Homo sapiens: one gene and its partner. The protein of the gene in region 1 purifies or fractionates together with the protein of each later gene. This does not show direct contact. Each region holds a gene or a part of one and is shown on either strand. Other genes may lie near its edges.

The links.
Region 2: the proteins of SBNO1 (region 1) and RBM25 fractionate together in Homo sapiens (co-fractionation; one large-scale study listed by BioGRID). This does not show direct contact.

What each region holds. Positions count from the first base shown.
Region 1 is NC_000012.12:123,326,644-123,330,464, reverse strand, and holds part of SBNO1 (protein strawberry notch homolog 1), read left to right. Parts: coding exon 1-46; intron 47-1,569; coding exon 1,570-1,731; intron 1,732-2,437; coding exon 2,438-2,573; intron 2,574-2,652; coding exon 2,653-2,758; intron 2,759-2,885; coding exon 2,886-3,039; intron 3,040-3,821. UniProt on the Homo sapiens protein: Plays a crucial role in the regulation of neural stem cells (NSCs) proliferation. Enhances the phosphorylation of GSK3B through the PI3K-Akt signaling pathway, thereby upregulating the Wnt/beta-catenin signaling pathway and promoting the proliferation of NSCs.
Region 2 is NC_000014.9:73,061,397-73,065,217, forward strand, and holds part of RBM25 (RNA-binding protein 25), read left to right. Parts: intron 1-3,575; exon of another isoform or gene 3,576-3,697; intron 3,698-3,821. UniProt on the Homo sapiens protein: RNA-binding protein that acts as a regulator of alternative pre-mRNA splicing. Involved in apoptotic cell death through the regulation of the apoptotic factor BCL2L1 isoform expression.

The DNA of each region.
Region 1 (3,821 bases):
AAGGGATATTGGAGCAAAAAACATTTTGGTTCATTCGTTAAATAAGGTATGAAATCTTTTTATTCAGTTGGTCATTCAATAAATATTGACTCATCTGTGAGATGACAATAATAATAGCTATGTATATAAGGGGACACTTTTTGGAAAACTTTGATGTTACTCCACAGAAAGCATAGTGAGTGCTAGCCACTATTGTTGGTTTGTGGATTCCTATATGCTAAACACTGACAGGCAGTAGCCACTCATCACATGTGGCTATTGAACAGTGTAAGTGACCAGTCCAAATTGAGATGTGCTCTCAAGTGTACAGTGCACACCAGTTGATTCTCTCAATTTTCAGTGTTATTTTTATCTTTCTTTTATAGTTTATATGCCATAAGGGTGCAGTTTAGACAGGTGGCATACCTTGCACTATAGGTCACCAAATCATATGCGATGTAGATAGTTATGGCTTGGGCAGACTGGTTTCAGTATTTGTACAGCTAATGGACTTGAGTTACTCATACCTCTGCTCACATGAAAACAATTCTGTAAGCTGAAAGACAATGTGTGCCAGTGTGTTTTAGAATGTTAAGGTTCAGTTAGCAAATCTTTATTGACTTACTATGCATGCACCAATTGTTGGTGCTATAAGGTTAAAATAGACTGATAGGGTTCCTGGAAGGGCCTCCCTAGTAGCCCTTTGAAAATAAGTAACTGCACCTCTACTTCCCATGTGAGTCCTAAGTTGAATTCAGTGTTGCCCTAAACAGTGGCTTGTTAGGGTGGGTTTTACTGGGTGGATTTGTAGCTATAAAGTACTGTGTCTTGAATGACTGTATACAATTCAGAACTAAAAGGATGTAAGTGGCATCTAGAATTTTTTTTTTAAATTTCAGAGTAGTATTAGAAAGGCACATTAACAATTACTCATAATTCTTATGTATCAGAAATTAATCACAGTGTTTTGCATATAGTAAGTGCACAATAAATGTTTGTAAATTGTGACTTTTTATTCTTATAGGGAAGTTTGTCTGGTTTTTAATGTTTTTTTTTGTGATGATAAAAGTTTTTAAGACTTTGAAAACTGGATTTAAAAAAAAAAAAAAAAGATCTCAGCTCTGTTGCCCAGGCTGAAGTGCAGTGGCACAATCTCGGCTCACTGCAACCTCCATCTCCCAGGCTCAAGCAGTTCTCCCACCTCAGCCCCTGTGGTAGCTGGGACTGCAGACACGCACCACGATGCCTGGCTAATTTTTGTATTTTTTGTAGGGATGGGGTTTCACTATGTTGGCCAGGCTGGTCTTGGAACTCCTGAGCTCAAGCGATCCACCCACCTTGACCTCCCAAAGTGTTGGGATTACAGGTGTGAGCCACTGTGTCCTACCAAAAACTGGATTTTTGTACTATAAAGTTGTGTGTTTGTGTTGTGTACATTTATACAAATAAATTTGCGTCTCTGTACTTTTATGTTTTCTGAAGCCTGTCATGGGCCTAACAAGAGTTCCTGCTTGTGAATGTTTAGTTGGGATGAATGTTGCAGAGAGAAAGGTATACTAATTAACTAAATTCTTTTCTTTTCTTTTTTAGTTTAAATACGGAAAAATTTCTTCCAAACATAATGGGAGTGTGAAAAAGGGTGTTATTTTTGCTACTTACTCTTCACTTATTGGTGAAAGCCAGTCTGGCGGCAAGTATAAAACTAGGTTAAAACAACTTCTGCATTGGTGCGGTGATGACTTCGATGGAGTGGTATCCTTTATGGCAAATATTTTTCTATTTTTTAACGACAAGAAAATTATAAAAGGGTAGACCTTTGGGAAACAGGAATCTTGAGATTAAACGAGTTGCTGGAGTGAAAACTTTAATGATTACCTAGAGTCCAAAGGGATTGGAAAGTTGATTCGGTTTTTTACCTGTCAGATAGGAGACCAATGTTTAATCTCCTGGTTTAGAAAAATGTTAATAGATATGAGGAATACTGAATACTGTATTCCCCTTTTGAGGATTAACATTGCATATTTACATAGCAGAATACCCGAGAAGACTAAGTGAAAGAAAACTGTTAGAACTTAGTGGTCCCAAACTTGTTCACAGTATATCTTTTAACTGTCCTGCATGAGGAACATCACTTTTTGAAATGCTGATTAAGTTGGTTACCAATCATGCTTCTACTTTTACAAGTTACCAGATAACAACTTCTTGCTGCAGTGGGTTCTTTTCTCTGTTTTAATTTAGAGGCAAATTGCTGGTTTAAATTCCAAATTCAGTGAATGTCTTTGAGGCTAGAGAGGGAGGAGGATGTAACTGGGGAAAGGCCCATAGGACTTCCTTTGTATTTGCAGTCATGAAATAGGCAATCAGAAGGCCTCAGGGAAATAAAAGTTAACTCTTCTTGAAAGACTGGAGATTCTTACTTAATACTAATGTGATACATTCCTTAACTCATTCCATTTAGATAGTGTTTGATGAGTGTCATAAAGCCAAAAACTTATGTCCTGTTGGTTCTTCAAAGCCAACCAAGACAGGCTTAGCAGTTTTAGAGCTTCAGAACAAATTGCCAAAAGCCAGAGTTGTTTATGCTAGTGCAACTGGTGAGTATTTATTTATTTAAAAATATATATTGTAGGTTATTTTTTCAACTATAATATATTTCATTTGTGGGATTTTCAGGTGCTTCTGAACCACGCAACATGGCCTATATGAACCGTCTTGGCATATGGGGTGAGGGTACTCCATTTAGAGAATTCAGTGATTTTATTCAAGCAGTAGAACGGAGGTAATGCAGTTTACGGTATATACTCTTCTCAGTAGCAATCTAAGAAGTGTGTTATTCCTAAAGCCCATTCTCTGTATGTTAAAATTCTACTGTATTGGTAATTACTGTATGTTTTAATTTTATTCAGAGGAGTTGGTGCCATGGAAATAGTTGCTATGGATATGAAGCTTAGAGGAATGTACATTGCTCGACAACTGAGCTTTACTGGAGTGACCTTCAAAATTGAGGAAGTTCTTCTTTCTCAGAGCTACGTTAAAATGTATAACAAAGCTGTCAAGCTGGTGAGGAATTTTTCTTAATTCCTAGTGTTTATTTAATGTATCTGATAATGTTTCTGTTAGTTTTGGCGATTGCGATGCCTCCTGCCCATGGGAATGTATTTCTACTATAAAACAACAGATGAAGCCAGGCACGGTGTCTCATGCCTCAGCACTTTGGGAGGCTGAGGCGAGCAGGTCACCTGAGGTCAAGAGTTCAAGACCAGCCTGGCCTACATGTTGAAACCTCATCTCTACTAAAAATACGAAAAAAAATTAGCTGGGCATGGTGGTGTGCGCCTGTAGTGCCAGCTACTTGGGGAGGCTGAGGCAGGAGAATCGCTTGAACCCAGGAGGCGGAGGTTGCTGTGAGCCAAGATGGTGCCAGTGCACTCCAGCTTGGGTAACAGAGGGATACTCCATCGCAAAACAAAAACAAAAACAAAAAACAAAAACAAACAGATGAGTTACCAGATGATAGGCTGTTTAACCAATGTGTTTTTTTTTGTTTTTGTTTTTAATTGAAGCAGGGTCTTACTCTGTCACCCAGACTGGAGTACAGTGGTGTGATCTTGGCTTACTGCAACCTCTACCTCCCAGGTTCAAGGAGTCCTCCAGACTCTGCCTCCTGAGTATCAGGGACTGCAGGCGCATGTCAATGTGCCTGGCTGATTTTTGTATTTTTTGGTAGAGATGAGGTTTTACAGTGTTGCCCAGCCTGATCTGGAACTCCTGGGCTCAAGCAATCCACCTGCCTCAGCCTCCCAAAGTGCTGGGATTACAGGCATCAGCCACTGCGCCTGGCC
Region 2 (3,821 bases), on another chromosome or scaffold:
CATAGAAAATTCACCTGTAAGTGCACAATTCAATGATTTTTGGTAAATATACAAAGTTATGCATCCATTACCCCAAAAGGATTCCTTCTGTCTGTTTGCAAGTCACCCTGTTCCACCCCAGTTTCAGGCAAGCCCTCATTTTTCTGTATAGATAGTAGTAGATAGCGCTGCTTTTTTGTTTTATTTGGTTTTTGAGATGGGGTCTCTTTCACCCAGGTGGAGGGCAGTGCTGCGATCTTGGCTCACTGCAACTTCCGCATTTCAGGCTTAAGCAATCCTCCCACCCCAGCCTCCCAAGTAGCTGGGACCACAGGTGCACGCCACCATGCCTGGCTATTTTTTTGTATTTTTGGTAGAGATGGGGTTTCACCATGTTGCCCAGGCGGGTCTGGAACTCAGGCTCAAAGGATCCACCTGCCTCGTCCTCCCAAAGTGCTGGGATTACAGGTATGAGCCACTGTGCCCAGCCTTGTTTTTGTTTTTAAAAAGATGAATTCTTCCTGTGTTGCTCAGGCTGGAGTGCAGTGGCTATTCACAGGCGTAATCCCACTATTGATCAGTTTGGGAGTTTTGCCCTTCTCTGTTGGCAACCTGGTGGTTCTCTCTCATCCCAGGAGGTCACCATATTAATGCTGAATGGACTTAGCATGAACACCTGATCAGTAGCGTGCTGCAGCCCAGAACTCCAGGGCTCAAGTGATCCTCCTGCGTAGCTGTGACTATAGGCAGGCACAGGAGTGTTGCTCTTTAATCATTGAAAATGGTAAAACAACAAAAGTGGCAATGTCAGAAAAAGATCAACTCTTTTTTGGAGATTTCCAAACAATTGAGTATTTTCATACTTCTGAAAAGCTTTGCTGTAAAAGTAGTTTTTCTGTTAAGCATTTCCCATTCTTCTTTGGGCATAAAACACTTTTTTTTTTCTAGGAATAATTCCTGCAGACCTGACACATAATTGGAAGTAGATATTGAATGAATGAGTGAGTTGTATGTGAATATTTGCTCAGAGGAATCTCAGTTCATTATCATTTCAGAAATTTGGCACGTAGTGTACTGATGGAGCTAGTCTAAAATAATCTATCCTGGGAGAAATAATTTTGTTTCTATCTGGATAAGTCTACAATAGAGGAATGCTTATTAGCAGTGTTTTGCTGTATTTTGCATACTTGCAGTATTCTTAAGAGTGCAGAAAAAAATAGTTTGAAAGATTCAAAGAGAAAAAAGTGAAAAAAGAAAAGCTGAGTGCATGCATATGTTGAGTACTAGAGATATGTCTTCAGGGTTTCTTTTTGGACCAGATTTCTTGAGATAAAATTTGCATACAATAAAATGCATCTGTTTTAATTTCAATGAGTTTAGACAAATGCATATACTTGTGTGACCACCGCTACACTAGAGGTAGGGAACCCTTCTATCATAGGTTTCTGTTATTTTATTTAATTTTTGGGGGGCCTCACTCTGTCGCCCAGGCTTGAGTGCAGTGGTGTGAGCTCGGCTCATTGCAACCTCCACCTCCCGGGCTCAAGCGATTCTCCCATCTCAGCCTCCTGAGTATCTGGGACCACAGGTGCATGCTACCACACCTGGCTAATTTTTTGTATTTTTGGTAGAGATGGGGTTTCACCATGTCGCCCAGGCTGGTCTTGAACTCCTGAGCTCAAGTGATCTGCATGCCTTGGCCTCCCAAAACGCCGGGATTACAGGTATGAGCCACTGCACCTGGCCCAGGTTCCTGTTTTTATTATCGTGGGCTATAGAGTTTCTTTTTTTTGAGATGGAGTCTGGCTCTGTCGCCCAGGCTGGAGTGCAGTGGCACAATCTCTGCTCACTGCAAGCTCCGCCTCCCGGGTTCACGCCATTCTCCTGCCTCAGCCTCCCGAGTAGCTGGGACTACAGGCGCCTGCCACTATGCCCGGCTAAATTTTTGTATTTTTAGTAGAGACGAGATTTCACTGTGTTAGCCAGGATGGTCTCGATCTCCTGACTTCGTGATCCACCCACCTCGGCCTCCCAAAGTGCTGGGATTACAGGCTTGAGCCACCGCGCCCGGCCCGGAGTTTCATACTTAGCAGGAAAAGGTGCTTTGAACCTTCTAAAATGTGAGGTACTTTCAATATTTTAAAAAATGCTATGGAAATGATTTCAGTGCCATAAGATAACTCTGCATTTCTCTCTTTTAAATCCCACATATTATACAATCCCTCAGCAAATCCTATTGGCTGCCTTCAAAATATATCCAGGATCCAACAACTTGATAGCACTTTCACCACTACCACCTGTTCCAGGCCACCATCTCTCCAGGCTACCATCTCTTATATGGATTATTGTACCAGTCTCTTGCTTGTATCCTGTTCCCTTCCAGGCTTAACACAGTGGCCAGTGATACTGTTAAAATGTGACAAGTCAGAAACTCTTCAAATGATTTTCACCTCATTCAGAGTTAAAACTAAAATGTTTATTTACATTGTGTTACATAGCCCTACACTCTACTCATAATACTCAGTATTTATTTCTGATTTTCTTCATTTATTCTGCTCCAGTCATACTGTTGGCCTTGCTATTCCTCCCTCAAATACACCATTCCTGCTTCAGCCTCTTTGTATTTGTCTTTTCCTTTGCTTGGAAGTCTCTTTCCCCCAGATATGAATAGGGCTTCCTGCCTCTGCCTCTTTTAAATCTTTGTTCTAATCTTCACCTTCTTGGTGAGGCCTAATCGCTGTATTTAAAATAAACTACTCCATAGCTCTCTTCCCTAATTTATTTTTCTACAAAGTACATACCATCTTTCAATGTATTATAATTTATTTTGTTTATCATCTATAGGTAACAGATAAGCTTTGCTTATGATTATGAAAGTTAATTCTCAATCAGTTTCACATGGCAAAACACATAAACCTGTGTTGAAATAAGTAGTTGGTAATCTTTTAGGCTGCTTAAAGTGGACATTAGTATTTATCAAAGATGAGAAATGTTTTCTGATTTTCCATGAGAGACCAATCTTTTTTATTTTTGTTTTGAAATGGAGTCTCGCTCTGTCACCCAGGTTGGAGTGCAGTGGCGCGGTCCCAGCTCACTGCAACCTCTGCCTCCCAGGTTTAAGCAATTCTCCTGCCTCAGTCTCCCGAGTAGCTGGGACTACGGGCGCCTACCACCATTCCTGGCTAATTTTTGTATTTTTAATAGAGACGGGCTTTCACCATGTTGGCCAGTCTGGCCTCGAACTCCTGACCTTGTGATCCGCCCGCCTCAGCCTCCCAAAGTGCTGGGATTACAGATGTGAGCCACCGCGCCCAGGAGAGGCCAGTTATCTTAAAGGAATATCCATAAAAATTAGCTGTTAACTGGTATTTTTGCCTTCACCTTTGAAGTCCAGCCTATCAACAAGCAAGTTTTGGCAGCTCCAAATAAAGGGGAATATGTTATGGAAAAATTTGAAGTGAATGGAATGGGTATATTGGCATAAACGAAAATTAAATATATCTGGTTAACTCTGCAGAATGAATTACACATTTAAAAACCATAAAATATAACTTAAATACCAAGAATATAGAGTTTTACTTTTTTTTTTTTTTTAGACGGAGTCTTACTCTGTCGTTCAGGTTGGAGTGCAGTGGCGCGACCTCGGCTCACTGCAACATCTGCCTCCCAGGTTCAAGCAATTCTCCTGCCTCACCTTCCAGAGTAGCTGGGATTACAGGTGCGCACCACCACACCTGGCTAATTTTGTTTGTTTGTTTGTTTGTTTTCTTTTGAGACAGAGTCTCACTGTGTCACCCAGGCTAGAGTGCAGTGGCGCGATCTCGGCTCACTGCAACCTCGGC